2 separate regions of the Homo sapiens genome follow, and region 2 is linked to region 1. The links come from fine-mapping of genetic effects on gene expression. A gene starts in region 1. The other region holds a variant in brackets. All regions are shown on one strand. Distances are between the middles of the regions.

Region 1 (8,521 bases):
ATTATTGGCAGAGATGAAATGTGACCCAGATATATAGCTAGTTTATAAAAAACAAACAAACAGGTCGGCATCGCTTAGGTAAACGAGATGTTACGAACTGGCTCCATGTCCTTTTCCATCTGCAATGTAACTAAATCATATCAATCCCCTCCATATTCCCTAAGAAACAATTCAAAGGCAGCTGGAGTTCCCAAAGTAAATAACAACTTTGAATTAAACCTGCACATTAAGAAAAGTTTCCTCCTCCAGAACTCCACAATTGGGATCTGCCATCATAGACCCCACAGCTCTGCCGATGCCCATGGGAATGACTATGCTTTGACCAGCAAGGCAAGGGGAGTAGAACTTGTGATGTGAAAAACAAAAACCTTAAGGAAAAAAAAAAAGCAATCAGTGTTCTCTAAACAAAAAGAGTGGAGAACAAACTAGCAAACACCTAAGGATTGTCTTTTGTCAGTTCAGCAATTAAAAATTGGGATGAGTTCATTATTCCACAAACTAAGAGAGAGAAGGAATCTTTTTAAGTAAGCAGGGGAGATTTAGGTCAATTTTTTGATCGGAAAACATGGCTAGTTTATTTTTATAAACCATTTTAACATTATATTCAATCTTTGGAAGTCAAGTCATCCAAAAGGAAAGCACTTTCTCTGGCAGGAAGGTGCACTGGATTTGAGTTAAACTGTTCTTGTATGTTAAAAGCAGGTCAAAAGGGCAGTTTAAGCACATGCCAAAATTATTCAGGAGTTCTAAAGTTCTGAAACCTGCTTAGATTTTATCCCTCTAGAAAAAATATTTTAAGAAAGCATTCCTATCTGCCCATTATGAAGTGGCATTTAGGTATCTACAACTTCCACAATGAGAACACAGCCCTTTTAAATATTCTTAAACCAAATATTTACCTATCGACCTTTTTAGAAAATCAATTAAGGCATCCCAGTAAATTCAAATAGTATGGAAATTTCCAGAATGTATTTCAGCTAATTGGGACCCCAATACCTTCTTTCTCAATACCCTGCTAGGAGGAAGGGAAAGAAAATTTACTGCTTTACCTGAGGGGAAAAAAGAAAACAACAATAAAAACTCCAAAGGACTCCCCTTAGGTTTAATGTGAATATGTCTATGTTCAGATGTGTGACTGGAGAAAAGTGTGAAATGTGAGCAGTGAAAAGTACTCAGTATTCTATTCCCATAGATATCTTTTAAGACACGTTAGTAAATATGCATACAAGCCACAGACTATATCCCAAACCTGTAACTTTATAATGCCTTTAAGAACTTTCCTTCACAGTCTATTATGTCACCAGCCACTCTCCTCTCTTCTTTCCTCGTCTCTAAGGATTGCAGTCAAGGAATTTGCCTGGGTGATCAGTAGTAATGACTAAGGTTGCAAGAAAAAATTATTAGCGAGAACTCACTACTCAAATATTGTAACTAAGGTATTTTATCAGACACACACACACGCACGTGCTGCTCTTCTTCCTGCCACAGCTGCCTAACCAGAACACCACAAACCATGGCTGTTTTTCTTTTTCTTTCTGAGACAGGGTCTTGCTCTGTCGCCCAGGCTGGAGTGCAGTGGTGCGATCTCGGCTCACTGCAGCCTCGACCACTCAGGATCAAGAGATCCTCCCACCTCAGCCTCCGGGGCTGGGACCACAGGCACATGCCACCACGCCCGGGTAATTTTTGTATGTTTTGTAGAGCCGAGGTTTCGATGTGTTGCCCAGGCTGGTCTCGAACTCCTGGGCTCAAGCCCGCTTTGGCCTTCCAAAGTGCTGTGATCACAGGCGTGAGCCATTGCTACCGGTCTCATTGCTCTTTTTCATCGTCATTGTAATCTGTCACTTTAGTCGCTCATTCTGAAACCGAAGGACAGCCTCATTCCTCCGCCCTGACGGAAAGAACCGATGAGGCCTTGCTGCACGTTAGCAGTGGGAGGCTCAGAAAAGCCCGTGGAGCTTTTGAGACTGCAAATTCCCTGGCTATTTCCACCTGGAGCCTCTTTGTCACATCCGGTGAATTCCCTCATCTACAGAAAGCGGCTGCTGAAAAAGACATCACCAGCTACAACGCCTTGAGTACTACAGCGCTCCCTGCGCAAAGTAAAACCCAAGTCTTCGGATCAAAACCAGCCGGGGCTGTGCATCCTTCACGATGCCGGACCTCCTGAAAAGCTCACCTGGGTACAGCTCAGGATCCTGGCCTCGGCTCGCTGGCCCTGACAGGCGGGTGGTCAGGGTGACACACGGTGGGAAGAACACACGCCCGCCTGCCTGCGAAGCCTCGCAAATAGCTGGGCTCCCTCGGCACCTTCTGCCGCCAGGTCTCCGCCTCCCAACCTCCCTCTGGGCGTACCGAGCCCGTTGTCGCCACGTTTCCCTCGCCCGGGAGGCAACGCGGCACCCACCCCGCAGCATCCTCGCTTCCGGGGCCTCGGGCAAGGGTCTCCAGTCCCAGCCCACCCACCCTGCCCGCCTCGCGCCGCGCTGGCCCTCCAGCCTGCGGCCACATTCAAGGCCGAGCGCAGTCTGGGCTGGAAACCCGCCGCCCGGGGCGCAGGCAGCCCAGCTGGGCCCCGCCTCACCCCGACGAGCTGCTCACGACCTCCAAAGGGAAGAAAGCGACGCTCTGAGAACTCCGAGAGGCCGCCGGCCAAGCGCCGACTCGGGGGGCGGGGGAACGGAAACCGACGTCTCCCCTTCGACCTCCCGGGAAACCCTTCTCCGTTTACTCTCCATTCCGCGACCGCCAATAAAGAACAGCATACATGGTTAGCAGAAATAAATGAATTGCACTCTCTAGGCTCTTACCTCTGGATGGCTACGTCCCTGAAAAATGTTTTAATTAGCTAACGGAGGACGGGGGAGGAGCTTTCTTGGTCGGTAAATAAGAGTGCCTTCTCCGTCGTCTCGGATCTCCGAAGCAAGCAGTCAAAGCGGCCACTGCCTTGCCTGCTGGAAATTCTCGAAAATTTTTCTCCCGCAGTTGACCAGATGGAGAGGGAGAAGTCTGTTCCCGCTGACTGACAGCAGATCCGGCCAGTCCGCACTCGGCGAGACGGCTGGCCGGCCGCCCGGGCCCTCGATCGCAGCCAGTCACAGATGCCGATGGGAACGAGCCTCCCCGCGGCTGCTATTTGACTTCGCAGGCTTCCAGCTGCGCGGCGGAGCGACGTCACCCTGTGCCAGTGGTGGCTCGCGGCGGCGCCCCGCCCTCCCGAGGTTAGCTCCCCAGCCAAAGAGGGGGCGCGCTTGCGCGGTGGGTGGGGCCGCGAGACTTGGTACCTAGCCAGCGGGCGGAGCGCGGAGGGGGTTTCGCTTCGGGCTAAGGGACTGTAGTTGTGACAGCCAGGAAACCGAGAACGGAATGCCAATACTGCTTAGGCTTAGAGTTTGAAAGGCATCTGATTTCACTGCCATGTCTTTGAACAGCAGTGCACAGTGCAGTCTTCTTCGTGGCTGAACAGGTATCTTGTGATCTTTAGGGAATGTCTATTAATTCATTAAACAAGTATTTCTGTGTTTATTGAAGGACGTCTTGTATGCTATACATTTGCTAGGCACTGGGGATACGCCCCTAACACAGCTAGACACGATAGCTGCCCTCATAGAATTTTCAGTCTAACAAAGAAGAGGGAGAAAACCAACAAGTAAGCAAGCACATAGAATAGTAATTAATCATGTCAAGGAAAGAAATAGGCATGGTGTGGACACTGGAGGATAACTTCAGATAAGATTGTTATATGAGAACTTTATAAGATGGCATTTAAACCATCAGTCATTCAGCCATGGAACCAATAAAATGATGAATTGTTTTGGGCAGAGGGGACAGCAGACAAAGGTCTCTCGGTGAGACAGCCCGGCGTTTTGGAAGAACAGAAAGAAAGCCAAAGTGTCTCCAGCATATTGAGGGAGGGAAAGAACAGCATGATGTGAGAGAGATGAGGCAGACAGGGGCTTGGAGTTGGCATTACATTTTAAATTTAATGGGCTTCTATTGAGGCATTCGAAAAAAAGAAGTGAAAGGGTCTGGGTTTAGACTTTACATCACTTTGGTTAGTGTGCAAAGAACAGTTAAAATAAGCTATTGGGAAACTGATTAGGAGATGATGACAGATGAAATTTAAGGTGGAAGATGACTTTGATTAAACTATGACAATATCACTGAAGGGAGAGAAGAGCAGAGAGATTAGAGATTTTAAAGATAAATAATTAACTTGATTTGGCATTTTAGTTATTCTAGGCCAGGGACAACTGTTTTGAATCCAGTGCATTTAATAACCAGGTTAGAGAGTGACTCTCATATTGACGGCTCACAAATTATAGTAATAACCTTGAGTAATATTATGTTGAGTTGATGTCTTTTCATAGACTTCCTGGATTTTTTTTTCTTTTGTCTTTCTTTCTTTTTTTTTTTTTTTTTTTTTTTTTTTTGAGACAGGGTTTTACTCCTGCCCAGGCTGGAGTGCAGTGGCGCTATCTGAGCTCACTGAAACCTCTGCTTCCCAGGCTCAAGTGATCCTCCCACTTCAGCCTCCCAAGTAGCTGTGACTACAGGCACGCTCAACCATACACAGCTAATGTTTATATTTTTTGTAGAGATGGGGCTTCCCCATGTTGCCCAGGCTGGTCTTGAACTCCTGAACTCAAGCAATCCACCCACCTCAGCCTCCCAAAGTGCTGGGATTACAGGCATGAGCCACTGTACCTGGCGTGGAATTTAAAAAAATAATAATTTTATTGAAACATGTGTCTTAAAAAGTGCACATATCCTAAGTGTAGACAGCTCAATGAATTTTCACAGTCTGCAGACACCTTTGTATCCAGCACCCAGATCAAGGAACAAAACATTATTAATACCTGGGAACCCCATCAACCTGCCTTCCAGGCACTGCCTTCTTCCAAGGGGAGTTTCTATGCTGACTTTCAACAGCATAGGTAGTTTTGCCTATCTTTATACTTGTTATATATAAAGCCATAAAGTATGTGTTCTTTTGTTTCTGGCTACTTGGACTCAACATTACACTTGTGAGATTCTTCCATATTGTTGTATGCAGTTGTAGATCATTCATTTTGTTTTCCATTCTGTGGATATACTGTAATTTATGAATTCATTCTTCTGATGGACATTAGGGCAGTTTGCCATTTAGAGCCATTATAGATAGTGCTACTATGAGCATTCTACTACATATCTGTTGGTGATGGCTTTCATTTGATGGAGTATTTTGGTAGCTAAGTTACTATTAAGTTTTTAAAAATCTGCTCATCAATAATGTAGTATCATGTGTTGCAATATCTCAATCATTTGGATCAAAATTTGGTGCAGATAATGAGGACTTTGCTTTCACAAATGTGAAAAATTTTGGTAACAAGAAAGATGTGGGAAATTTTAAGCTTGGAAGTGTAAAATATTTTGAATTGTCCTGGAGTTTTGACCTTTTTTATAACCACTTGCATGCCCAGCATCTGAGAACATCATGACTTTGCTAAATCCTTGTACCAAAACAGACTGGAATCCAGAGTCACATGATAAGCAAAGCCACTTAGGCTGTTCTGAAGAATATCTTTGATACTAAAACAGTCCTTGAAATTGCCTTTGAAAATCACACCATTTCACACTCTACCACAGCTCATTAAAATTAAAGCCAGCAGTTTACTTCTTTTGAATTATATGCTTCTGGGTTTTGAATCTCTGAAGCATAGCTAAATACACCACAAAAATAATTCATGGCCAGCACAGTGGTTCATGCCTGTAATCCCAGCACTTTGAGAGGCCAAGGCTGCCAATCACTTGAGCTGGGAGTTCAAGACTAGCCTGAGCAACATGTCAAAACCATGGTCTCTACAAAAAAATACAAAAATGAGCCAGGCATGGTGGCGCATACCTGTGATCCCAGCTACTCGGGAGGCTGAGGTGGGAGGATCACCTGAGCCCAGGAGGTCCAGGCTGCAGTGAACCATGATCTCACCACTGTACTCTAGCCTAGGTGACAGCACTTTGGGAGGCCGAGGCGGGTGGATCACAAGGTTAGGAGATCAAGACCATCCTGGCTAACACGGTGAAACCCCGTCTCCACTAAAAATACAAAAAATTAGCCGGCGTGGTGGCGGGCGCCTGTAGTCCCAGCTACTTGGGAGGCTGAGGCAGGAGAATGGCGTGAACCCGGGAGGCGGAGCTTGCAGTGAGCCGAGATCGCGCCACTGCACTCCAGCCTGGGCGACAGAGCAAGACTCCGTCTCAAAAAAATAAAATAAAATGCACAATTATTGGTACACCAAACCCCCATGAAATGCAGTTTATCTGTATAAGAAACCTGTTCATGTACCCCAGAACCTAAAATAAAAGCTTTTAAAATGTGAATAATGTGTAAAGGAAATCATTATTTGGTATTTGACAAAAAATTAAAAAATGGAAAAGAATTCACCACAGAGGCTGACTTGGCATGACAGATCACTGCACAATGTACAAAATAATCAAGGGGATATGGCACTCCGTACATTCATTAAGTTGAGCTACTTCTTTATTCAGTTTATATTTTATTTTATTTACTTATTTTTTTTTAGAGACAGGGTCTCCCTGTGTTTCCCAGGCTGGATTGCAGGGACTATTCACAAATGTGATAATAGTGCACTATAGCCTTGAATTCCTGGGCTCAAATGATTCTCCCGCCTCACTGGAGTAGCTAGGACTACAGGCATGCACCATTGTGCCCAGCTCAGTTTATATTTTAAAGAATTGGACCATCTGCTGAAAACCACTGGCTATCAGAAAATTACACCCAAAACAATTCACAGGGCTTTGGGTGGGTGGGTGGTATGTATAATTGCAGAATTATTAATATTCACTAATGAATCATTTGTTGTTAAAATTAGATATGGACATTTTTGTATACTCAGAATCAGCAGTTTTCTAGAAAAGTATCTGTAGGCTACTCTTGGCCTCATGCCTAAAACATGGGCCTGGGATACTAGGATGTATTTTTTCCACAGTTCAGGCTGCTCTGTCCTGAATTGCTAGCCCAGATGTCCCTTCTCTGTGTTACCAAGATAATTGCCAAAACACTGACATAGAGAATTTTTAGGTCTGTTGCAGTGGCTCATCCCTGTAATCCCACCACTTTTGGAGGCCAAGGCAGGAAGACAGCTTGAGGCCAGGAATTCGAGACCAGCCTGGGCAAGATAGTGAGACCCCTGTTCTACAAAAAAAAAAAAAAAGATTAGCCAGACATGGTGATGTATGCCTGTAGTCCCAACTACTTGAGAGGCTGAGGTGGAAGGATTACTTGATCCCAGGCGTTTGGGGTTGCAGTGAGCTATGAACATGCCACTGCACTCCAGCCTGGGCAACAAAGCAAGACCTTGTCTCTTTAAAAAAAAAAAAGAAAAGAAAAGAGAGAGAGAGAATTTGAAATCTTGTCCTTGGATGCAATTAAACTTGCAGCAATGATTTTATTTTAAAATATGATTGTTGCTTCCCCCACCCTGTATAATTTACCTCTAAAAATTTGGAATAAATAAGCTTCAGGCCAGGCGCAGTGGCTCATGTCTGTAATCCCAGCACTCTGGGAGGCCGAGAAGGGTGGATCATTTGAGGTCAGGAGTTCGAGACCAGCCTGACCAACATGGCAAAATGCCGTCTCTACTAAAAATACAAAAATTAGCTGGGTGTGGTGGCGTGCACCTGTAATCCCAGCTACTCGGGAGGATGAGGCAGGAGAATCACTTGAACCTGGGAGGCAGAGGTTGCAGCGAGCCAAGATCATGCCACTGCGCTCCAGCCTGAACAAAAGAGCAAGATTCTGCCTCAAAAAAAAAAAAAAAAAACTTCGACCAGTACCAATGCTACAGAGATTTGAAATGTCTTTCCATTTCCACCTCCGATTATTTGACTATTATTCATTCTATTTGACCCTTATTCAAGCCTTTAATTGCATGTTTCCCATCAGAGCTGTTGTGAGAACAATCATATTTTGTAAATGTATTTTGTAAGAAAGGTTATACAAAATTGTGTTTTATTTAAATCACAAAATGCTCAAAATCAAGGAAGCGAAATATGATAGTCATTATTAGCATTGTTTGCTAAATGTTTACTGTTCTTCATCACCCAAGCCAGTAGTGCCAGGCGAAGGCAGGCATCTGTGACTTGTCCTGGTCAATGAATTGTGAGTGGAGGTGATGGGGTAATTTTTGAGTGAGCATTTCGTATCCCTGTGCAAGACCCTCCAAGGTTCACTCACCTCTGCCATTGCAACCAGCAATGTTCCAGAGAATGGCTGCTCCCTGAATGACTCCAAGGAAGAGAATTCCACTGCAAGCCTATGATAGCCATGGAACATGAACAAGAAACAAACCTTTGATGTAGTTTGTTACTGGATCTTAACCTAACTTCATGTATCCTATCTCAACTGATAGAAATATTAACCCTAACTTAAAATTAACTTAAAATTATTTACTTGAATTGTTCTTGGGGTAATTTTAGCCTAAGGGAAATTTTCATACATTTATTCAATAAATATTCATGA
Region 2 (8,500 bases), 29 kb before region 1:
AGCAGTGGCAGGGAATAGATTACGAAGAAAGTGTCTTTCATGCAATGCTAAAGAGCTTTAATTTTACCTAGAAGTTGCAATTGGAAGAATGTAAACATAAGCATGCTTTGATTAGTGTGTGAAGAATGGACAAAGGGTGACCCCAAAGGCAAGGGAAACCAGTTGGAAAACTCCCGTGTTGTAGTGAGGATGGAGCAGAGGAGACAAATTATAGACATGAAGCAGCAAAGGTTGGTTCCTGGGTTTTGCTTTGGGAGTCTGAGTGGGAGGCATTGCCATTCACCACGAGAGGCAAATTAGAAGGAATAAGCTTGGGTGGGAATTCCATTTTGGATATGTTGAGGTGTCTAGAGGCCCTCAATGGCCATTTTCAGTCCCTGTCTGGATATTTTAGTTGGGAGCTTAGGAGAGAAATCTTGGCTGGGAATAAAGTGGCAAGTCACCAGCATACAGGTGACAGGTGCAGTCATAACGCAGTATTGCCTTTCACAAGGACAGTACACACCATGAGAAGATGGTTGATGGTAGACAATGAGTGGGCAGGGGACTGAGAAGCAACTGCTGGATATTTAGAAGGAAAACCAGAAAAGTAGGGATGGGAAAGATAAGACTGCTTAATGAGAAGGGAGTGGCCAAGAGGGTTAAATGCTAAAGAGCTCAAGTAAGTTAAAACTAAAAAGAACCACTGTATCTAGCCAATAAGAGGTCAGTGTGGACCTTTGAGACCAATGTTTCACTGGTGTGGTGGAGTCAGAGGGTAGAATGCAGGGAATTGAGAAGTGAATGAGAAATGGGAAAGTGAAGCCATAATTGTGGTCAGGGAAGTCTAAAATCTAAGAGTTTGGTTAACTTTAGTCTTGGTCTTGTTTACTTTTACTGTGTTTTCTCCTTCTTGCCCTGACACATTTTCTACTTACTCTCTTCCTCCTGGTTTCCAATTAATGGCTGCAGCGTTCTCATGTTCCTTCTGGTATTTTTTCATTTACTTATTAATGTATAAGTACTTATTAACCTTATCTGACTTTTGCAGTGGAAAATAACTGACTTTGGGATGAAATAGGGCTGGGTTTGAATCCCTTGCTAGAGTCCTCAGGGGCTGCTTTTTTTGTTATCTACAGGAGTTTGAATCTATACAGAAATCTTCTCAAACCAGCCAGGGGCTGGGAGCTGAGACTGCTGGGCCTGAGGCAGCTCTTTCCTCCACTTCTGTCTCTCTCTGGGAAATGTCTGCTCTCATCTCTGCTTTTCTCTGCACTTAACAGTGTGCACGTTTTCTAGAAACCAGTAGGCCAGTTTGACAAATCTTTCAATCTTAGCTCCTTCCATTACACAGCTCAGGAGCCCAACCTTCTCTCAGCATAAATTTTTAAGAGAATATGGTTGTTGACTGGCCAAGGATTGACTTTAGGATCATGTAGTCCAAATAGCAAGAAGTGGCCAGGCGCAGTGGCTCACATCTGTAATCCCAGCACTTTGGGAGGTGGAGGCAGGATGATAACTTGAGGTCAGGAGTTTGAGATCAGCCTGTCCAACATGGAGAAACCCCATCGCTACCAAAAATACAAAAATTAGCCAGGCGTGGTGGTGCACACCAGTAATCCCAGCTACTCGGGAGGCTGAGGCAGGAGAATCGCTTGAGCCTAGGAAGCGGAGGTTGCAGTGGGCCGAGATTGTGCCACTACACTTTAGCCTGGGCGACAGAGCAAGACTCTGTCTCAAAAAAAAAAAAAAAAAAAATAGCAATAAGTGTCAGTTGGTACAAACATGGCCCCCAGACCAAACATTTAAGTAAGAGCTATGAGTAAGGGGCAGTTCCCAGAAATGAAGGTTTGAACTGCACAGAAACTGGTGTGGGATTTTGGACAAATCCCTCAGTCTTTTCAGTCTTAAATGCAGAGTGAAGTTAAAACTTAGTGGATGCAGGCCAGGGCACGGTAGCGCACACCTGTAATCCCAGCACTTTGGGAGACTCAGGCAGGGGCATCACTTGAGGCCAGGCATTTGAGACCAGCCTGGGCAACATAACAAGACCCCATCTCTACAAAAAAATTACACCTATAATATAGTCTTAGCTACTCAGGAGGCTGATGTGGGAAGATTCCTTGAGCCCAGGAGTTCAAGGCTGCAGTGAGCTGTGACAGTGCCACTGCACTCCAGCCTGGGTGACAGAGCAAGACTGTATCTCTAAAAAAACAAAAAAATAAAAATCTTAGTGGATGCTGTGTTGTGCGAGAACTCTTTCTCTAGCTGCTAGGAGCACTGCCAGGGGACAGCTCTCATCTGTCATCCTCTCCAGGTATTTCCTGATGGCAGATGGCAGAAGACAGTCTCCTTGTTCAGTCACGTCCTCTTTCCAAGGACTGTCTGCATCCAATTAATGCTCAATGTCAGGGTAATAAAAATCTGTTCCTCAGACCCCCATCAAGTGGGCACAACTCTAGGGGACATTGCAATTCCAGAGCTCCCTGCAGAGGACAGTGGGCCTCTGTCATGACATGACAGACCAAAGTCTCCCTCTGCCCATTCCTGCTTCTGTCCTTTCCCTGTCATATGTGTTGTTTCCAAGAGCATTACCTAATAAACTTCCTGCACACTAATCTCAGTCTGAGTCTGCTTCCTAGGGAACGCAACCTGTGACAATACCGTACCTCCATCTTACAATATTTTGGGAAGAAATAAATGAAATAGGACAACTCCTGGGACACCTTAATTGAAAGCTCTTTCTCTGAGCTCTTACCATGAAGTGTTCTGCTACTAAACTTTTTCTTTTTCTTTTTTGTTTTGAGAAAGAGTCTAACTCTGTTGGTGCGATCTTGGCTGACTGCAACCTCCACCGCCCAGGCTCAAGCGATTCTCGTGCCTCAGCCTGCAGAGTAGCTGGGACTACAGGCCTGCACCACCAAACCTGGCTAATGTTTTTATTTTTAGTAGAGATGGGGTTTCACCATGTTAGCCAGGCTGGTCTCGAACTCCTGGCCTCAAAAGATCTGCCCGCCTCAGCCTCCCAAAGTGCTGGGATTACAGGAATGAGCCACGGCACCTGGCCTTCTACTGCTACTTTTATTGACGCCTTCTGTTCTCCTAGCCTCTACGTATGTGTGTTGTAGAGCACTATTGGCTTCTTTACATTATGCTCCCTTCTTTTTTGTGTGCTCTGCAGTAACTTAAGATTTGCTCCCACATAGTATTTCCCTTTGGCTAGGGTCAACTTCATGAGTGTCAATCCTGTGTAGCTACACAGGGCCCAGCACTTGGAAGGGTCCCACACTTGATTTAATGCTCTATTCTTGCAATCTTGAAATTCCTTTTCCCTTTTTTTGAGATGGAGTCTGAAGTCTTGCTCCCTGTTGCCCGGGCTGGAGTGCAGTGTCAGGATCACAGCTCACTGCAGCCTCAACTTTCTGGGCTCCAGCAATCCTCCCATCTCAGCCTCCTTAATAGCTGGGACTACAAGCGTGCACCGCATCTGGCTAATTTTTCTATTTTTTATAGACACAGGGTTTCACTACATTGTCCAGGCTGGTCTCAAACTCCTGGGCTCAAACGATCCACCCATCTCGGCCTACCAAAGTGCTGGGATTACAGGCATAAGCCACCACACTGGACTCTTTATTAAATTCTTAATAATTTTTTAATAATGGCTCTGCATTTTTATTTTGCACTGGGCTCAGCAAAAAAAAAAAAAAAAAAAAGCCATGTTACTAGTCTTGCTTTTGGCTCCCTGCCTCCTAAGATGTGAGATAGATCTCCTGATCCGGGCTAGAACCTACCCTTGGTGTGTTACCAAAGGCTCAGTGACTTCACTGATTAGATCTCTGTTGCCTCCACATTCGCTTCACTTGTTCAGATACACACTGCTATCTTTCTGGTATAATTCACTTTCCTCACTTTTCCATCTCCTGACAAAATCTCTCTGGGAAGATAATCGACCACCATTGTCCCCAAGCCCTGCTACATCCACCCTGGTGTCTTTTACAGAAATGTACATAGGTCATAGGTTCTCAATACTTACCACTGGTAGACTGACTTTATTAGGCTTCCCTACATGGTCATTTCTAAGTCCTGTACTGTTTGGTCATTCTATCCACTCCTTCATACTTGCTCCCCAGTTATATTCATTTGGCTTGTACATTTATGTGACATATTCTCAATTACCATCTCTAATGTTCATTCATCTATTAGGTTAGAGTTTCTGGACTAT[C/CT]TTTTTTTTTTTTTTTTTTTTGAGAGACAGTCTCACTCTGTCACCCAGGTTGAAGTGCAGTGGCATGATCTTGGCTCACTGCAACCTCTGCCTCCCAGGTTCAAGTGATTCTCAGGCCTCAGTCTCCCGAGTAACTGGAATAACAGGTGCGCACCACCACACCCGGCTAATTTTTGTATTTTTAGTAGAGACGGGGTTTTGCCATGTTGGCCAGGCTGGTCTCAAACTCCTGGCCTCAAGTGATCCACCCGCCTTGGCCTCCCAAAGTGCTGAGATTACAGGCATGAGCCACTGCACCCGGCCCATTAGCTCTTTTATATCACTCTTTTATGGAGTTCACAGGATCACATACACAATGTTGCAGTCTGGATGCCAAATAAACACAGTTGGATTTTTAAAATTGTTTAATGCATGTACTTTATTAGAATGATATTTTGAACACTGAGATAATGTGATTTCATTCTGCTCACAGTTACTCTAGTACACAGATTTAAAACAATGGTCAAAGCAGCAATTACATTAACTCACTGCAGGAGTCATTATACACTCAGGTAGTACTTTGGTAAATTACAAAACAAATGTACACAAGGGCACTTCAGTAGAAATTAAATCAGTTTGGGGACACATCAGGCTGCTAAATTCTGTACTAGAATCCAACAGCAAATGAGTCATTCTTGGAAGTGGAAGAACTCCATGATTTCACAGCCTAGAACACTAAGTATGACCACCAACGCACCATTTCAACTATCTAACAACCAATGGGAGAGTCAATTGTTCTCATCCCAACTGCCAAAAGCAAAAGGCAGGCCATCACAAGTTGGCTTGTTCACCTTCTAAAGACATGACTTTATTTCTGCCTAAGTCATCTATATAAGCGAATCTAATAAATACAATAAAATGTAACCCAACAAAATTCTCATGTCACTTTTTACAGACATGGGTATATGAGAACCATGGAGGTGCTAAAGAAAAATAGAAGCATTTTCTTATTATCATATTACCATGAAATTAAATTTATGTCTGTTCTAAGGAAAGAAACTAAATGTCCTGTTTGATATTGATGAGTAGGCCTACTCATTCTCTACCAAAATCCTAAAAAAAATAAAAATAAAATTTCACTTAAAAAATAATTTCCTAGGAGGGCACAGTGCTGTAATCCCAGCAATTTGGGAGGCCGAGGCAGGTGGATCACGAGGTCAAGAGATCGAGACCATCCTGGCCAATATGGTGAAACCCTGTCTCTACTAAAAATACAAAAATTAGCCGGGCGTGGTGGCATGCACGAGTAGTCCCAGCTACTCCAGAGGCTGAGGCAGGAGAATCGCTTAAACCCAGGAGGCAGAGGTTGCAGTGAGCCAAGATCGCGCCACTGCACTCCAGCCTGGCGACAGAGCGAGACTCTGTCTCAAGAAAAAAAAAAAATTCCATCTTTTAGATTATGTGCTAATAATTCTCTTTTAAGTGTTGGAACAGGGGAAAGTTCACATTATAGAGTACAAAGGATCAAAATGGATCCCTCCAAAATGGACATCCCCCCAGAAAAATGCTTATAACTTTGAAACACTTAAGACATACAAAGATCTGGCCAGGTGCGGTGGCTCATGCCTGTAATCCCAGCACTTTGGGAGGCCGAGGTGGGTGGATCACTTGAGGTCAGGAGTTCGAGACCAGCCTGGCCAATATGGCAAAACCCCATCTCTACTAAAAATACAAAAAAATTAGCCGGGCACGGTGGCGGACGCCTGTAATTCCAGCTACTCGGGAGGCTGAGGCAGGAGAATGGCGTGAACCCAGGAGGCGCAGCTTGCAGTGAGCCGAGATCGTGCCACTGCACTCCAGCCTGGGTGACAGAGAGAGACTCCTTCTCAAAAAAAAAAAAGAAAAAAAAATACAAAAATTAGCCAGGGGTGGTGGCACGCGCCTGTAGTCCCAGCTACTCAGGAGGCTGAGGCAGAAGAATCGTTTGAACCCGGGAGGCAGAGGTTGCAGGGAGCCGAGACCGCACCACTGTACTCCAGCCTGTGTGACAGAGTGAGACTCCATCTCAAAAAAAAAAAAAAAGAAATACAAAATCTGTAACAAACGAACAGCTGATGGAGAACAGGACAGCATTTACTTCTGAATCTATAAAGTACTTAAGAACTTATACTTGTGGAAAATCACAATGACAATGAATATTTCACCAAATAGATGGTGGCAAATAGTTTGGCAACACATATTAGAAAGGTGATTTCTATACTACACATAAATGAAAGACAAACCGAACCACAATTGATGTTTTACTACATTAATGTAATTTACACTATGCCTATACCCACATGGCAAATTCAGTTATAACTGAAAAACTAGAGCAGTCCCTTTTTTTTTACTATGATTTGCATATTTTCCAGTATCCTAATACATGCATACTTATCTTTTATAGATTATAATAATCTACATTTAAAATTCCATTTTAATATTGTGGCATGAAAAATACAAACACCAATACAGTATGTTTTATGCTTACTCAAAGTTAACTGGCTCAGAGTTTTAAAAGCTTTCCCGGATAAAGCAGAGTCAAGTCTACCCTATATCCCCATCCTATAAATTCCTCTTTGTCGAACCTGGCAATCTCAGTGAGCTATGATTGCACCACTGCACTTCAGCCTGGACAACAAAGTGAGACTCTGTAACTATAAAAAACAAAAACAGACAAACTTGGCTATCTACCTCAATCCATCAATCACCCTCATGCCTTTGAACTTGACAACATCACTCCTCATCTTAGTTTTTAAAGTAAAAGATAGGAATAGTAATGTAAAGCATTCAAAACAAAAATGAAACCTGCATATTTGTTTATTTATTTATCTGAGATGGAGTTTTTGCTCTGCTGTCCAGGCTGGAGTGCAATGGCGCGATCTCGACTCACTGCAACCTCCGCCTCCCAGGTTCAAGCAATTCTCCTTCCTCAGCCTCCCCAGTAGCTGGGATTACAGGCACCCACCACCACGCCTGGCTAATTTTTGCATTTTTTGGTCAAGATGAGGTTTCACCATGTTGGCCAGGCTGGTCTCTAACTCTTGACCTCAGGTGATCCACCTGCCTTGGCCTCCCAAAGTGCTAGGATTACAGGCTTGAGCCACCGCGCCTGGCTGAAACCTGCATCTTCAGAATGTCATTTTTGTGCGTTAGTTTTCCTTTGCCTGTTGGTTTGGAAATTCTCCATGTTCCTAAAGGTAGCTTCCACATTTCTGTTCCAAGAACTGATTAGAAAAAGCAAGATGGTTTCCCGCTTTAGTTGCCTCCCTTTGGTTCCTCACCTCTCAGACAACAAACAGAATGTTAACAGTCTTTCCTGTGATGTTTTTCCTTCTTTCACCTAACTTCCCTTGAAAAAAAAAATCAAAATATTTATTTAGCACTTTTTTCAAAGGGCAATTCCTGATTAATATAGGCAGAAAAACTCAAGATTTATCTTCTTCCATTTCCAAAAAGGTAAGAAGATGTAAATATTTATATTGGGCCCTCTCCCTCCTCATACATTTTTACCCAAAGCTTAAAGAAAAAAAAAAAAGTCAACTCAAAACACAGTTGAAGGTATATACTACATCAACTTTTTCTTTTGTTTCTGCCACAGAATTCCATGTCATTCTTAAGATTCAGTATTTTTCTCACATCCTATTACTTTATATACAAATTGCCATATAGCAATTTTTAACCTATTTCCTCATCTGCTGATAATCACTGGGTCTCCACTATAAGAAAATTGCCCCTAGTTTGTCAAGAGTCCTTAAAAATAACGTATCAATAATTTAAAACTGGTGAAAGAGCTATGCAAGATTGTTCCCTTTAATTTTATATTACTCTAAAATATACATATGTACACATACTCACACATATAACAAATTTACATAGTTTGCAGAAATAAACTACGGAAATAATTCCAAATACACATTTAGAAATTCACATTTTAACAGCAAACTTACATGCAGATAAAGAGAAGTATAGTTTTATACTTCCTAAGTTACACAGCAAGCTGAAATGGAGAATGTTTTAATGGTCATTTTAGATTTATTCTTTCTCCTAAGTCTTAGAAAATGAGCAAAAAGGAGACATAAAACTCAAGCTATGTCTATAGCAGTATCAGTCAATGTGGTATTATTTTTATTAACAAATTATTCAATTGCTTACTCTATACAAAAAGTGATATACACATACTATAATACTATATGCAAAACACAAAATAGCGTTAGAGATAACAAATGAGAACTTCATACAAAATACTTGATTCCATCAGTATTTAACTTTTGACCGGAAGAC

The links.
Region 2: its variant is fine-mapped to the expression of PPM1K-DT in fetal neocortex (Walker 2019, PIP 0.95).

The regions. Positions count from the first base shown.
Region 1 is chr4:88,281,596-88,290,116 of GRCh38, forward strand. It overlaps PPM1K-DT (PPM1K divergent transcript), which reads left to right and starts at 3,335. Exons shown (of 5, transcript NR_134238.1): 1 at 3,335-3,466. PPM1K (protein phosphatase, Mg2+/Mn2+ dependent 1K) reads right to left here and starts at 2,966. Exons shown (of 7, transcript NM_152542.5): 1 at 2,811-2,966. RefSeq lists enhancers at 2,749-2,808, 2,849-2,938, 2,851-3,374 and a silencer at 3,109-3,328.
Region 2 is chr4:88,253,019-88,261,518 of GRCh38, forward strand. It overlaps PPM1K (protein phosphatase, Mg2+/Mn2+ dependent 1K), which reads right to left. Exons shown (of 7, transcript NM_152542.5): 7 at 4,602-8,500. Among named protein-coding and RNA genes, the nearest start is that of PPM1K, 27 kb to the right of the region's middle. The variant C/CT (reference allele first, on the strand shown) is at 4,202.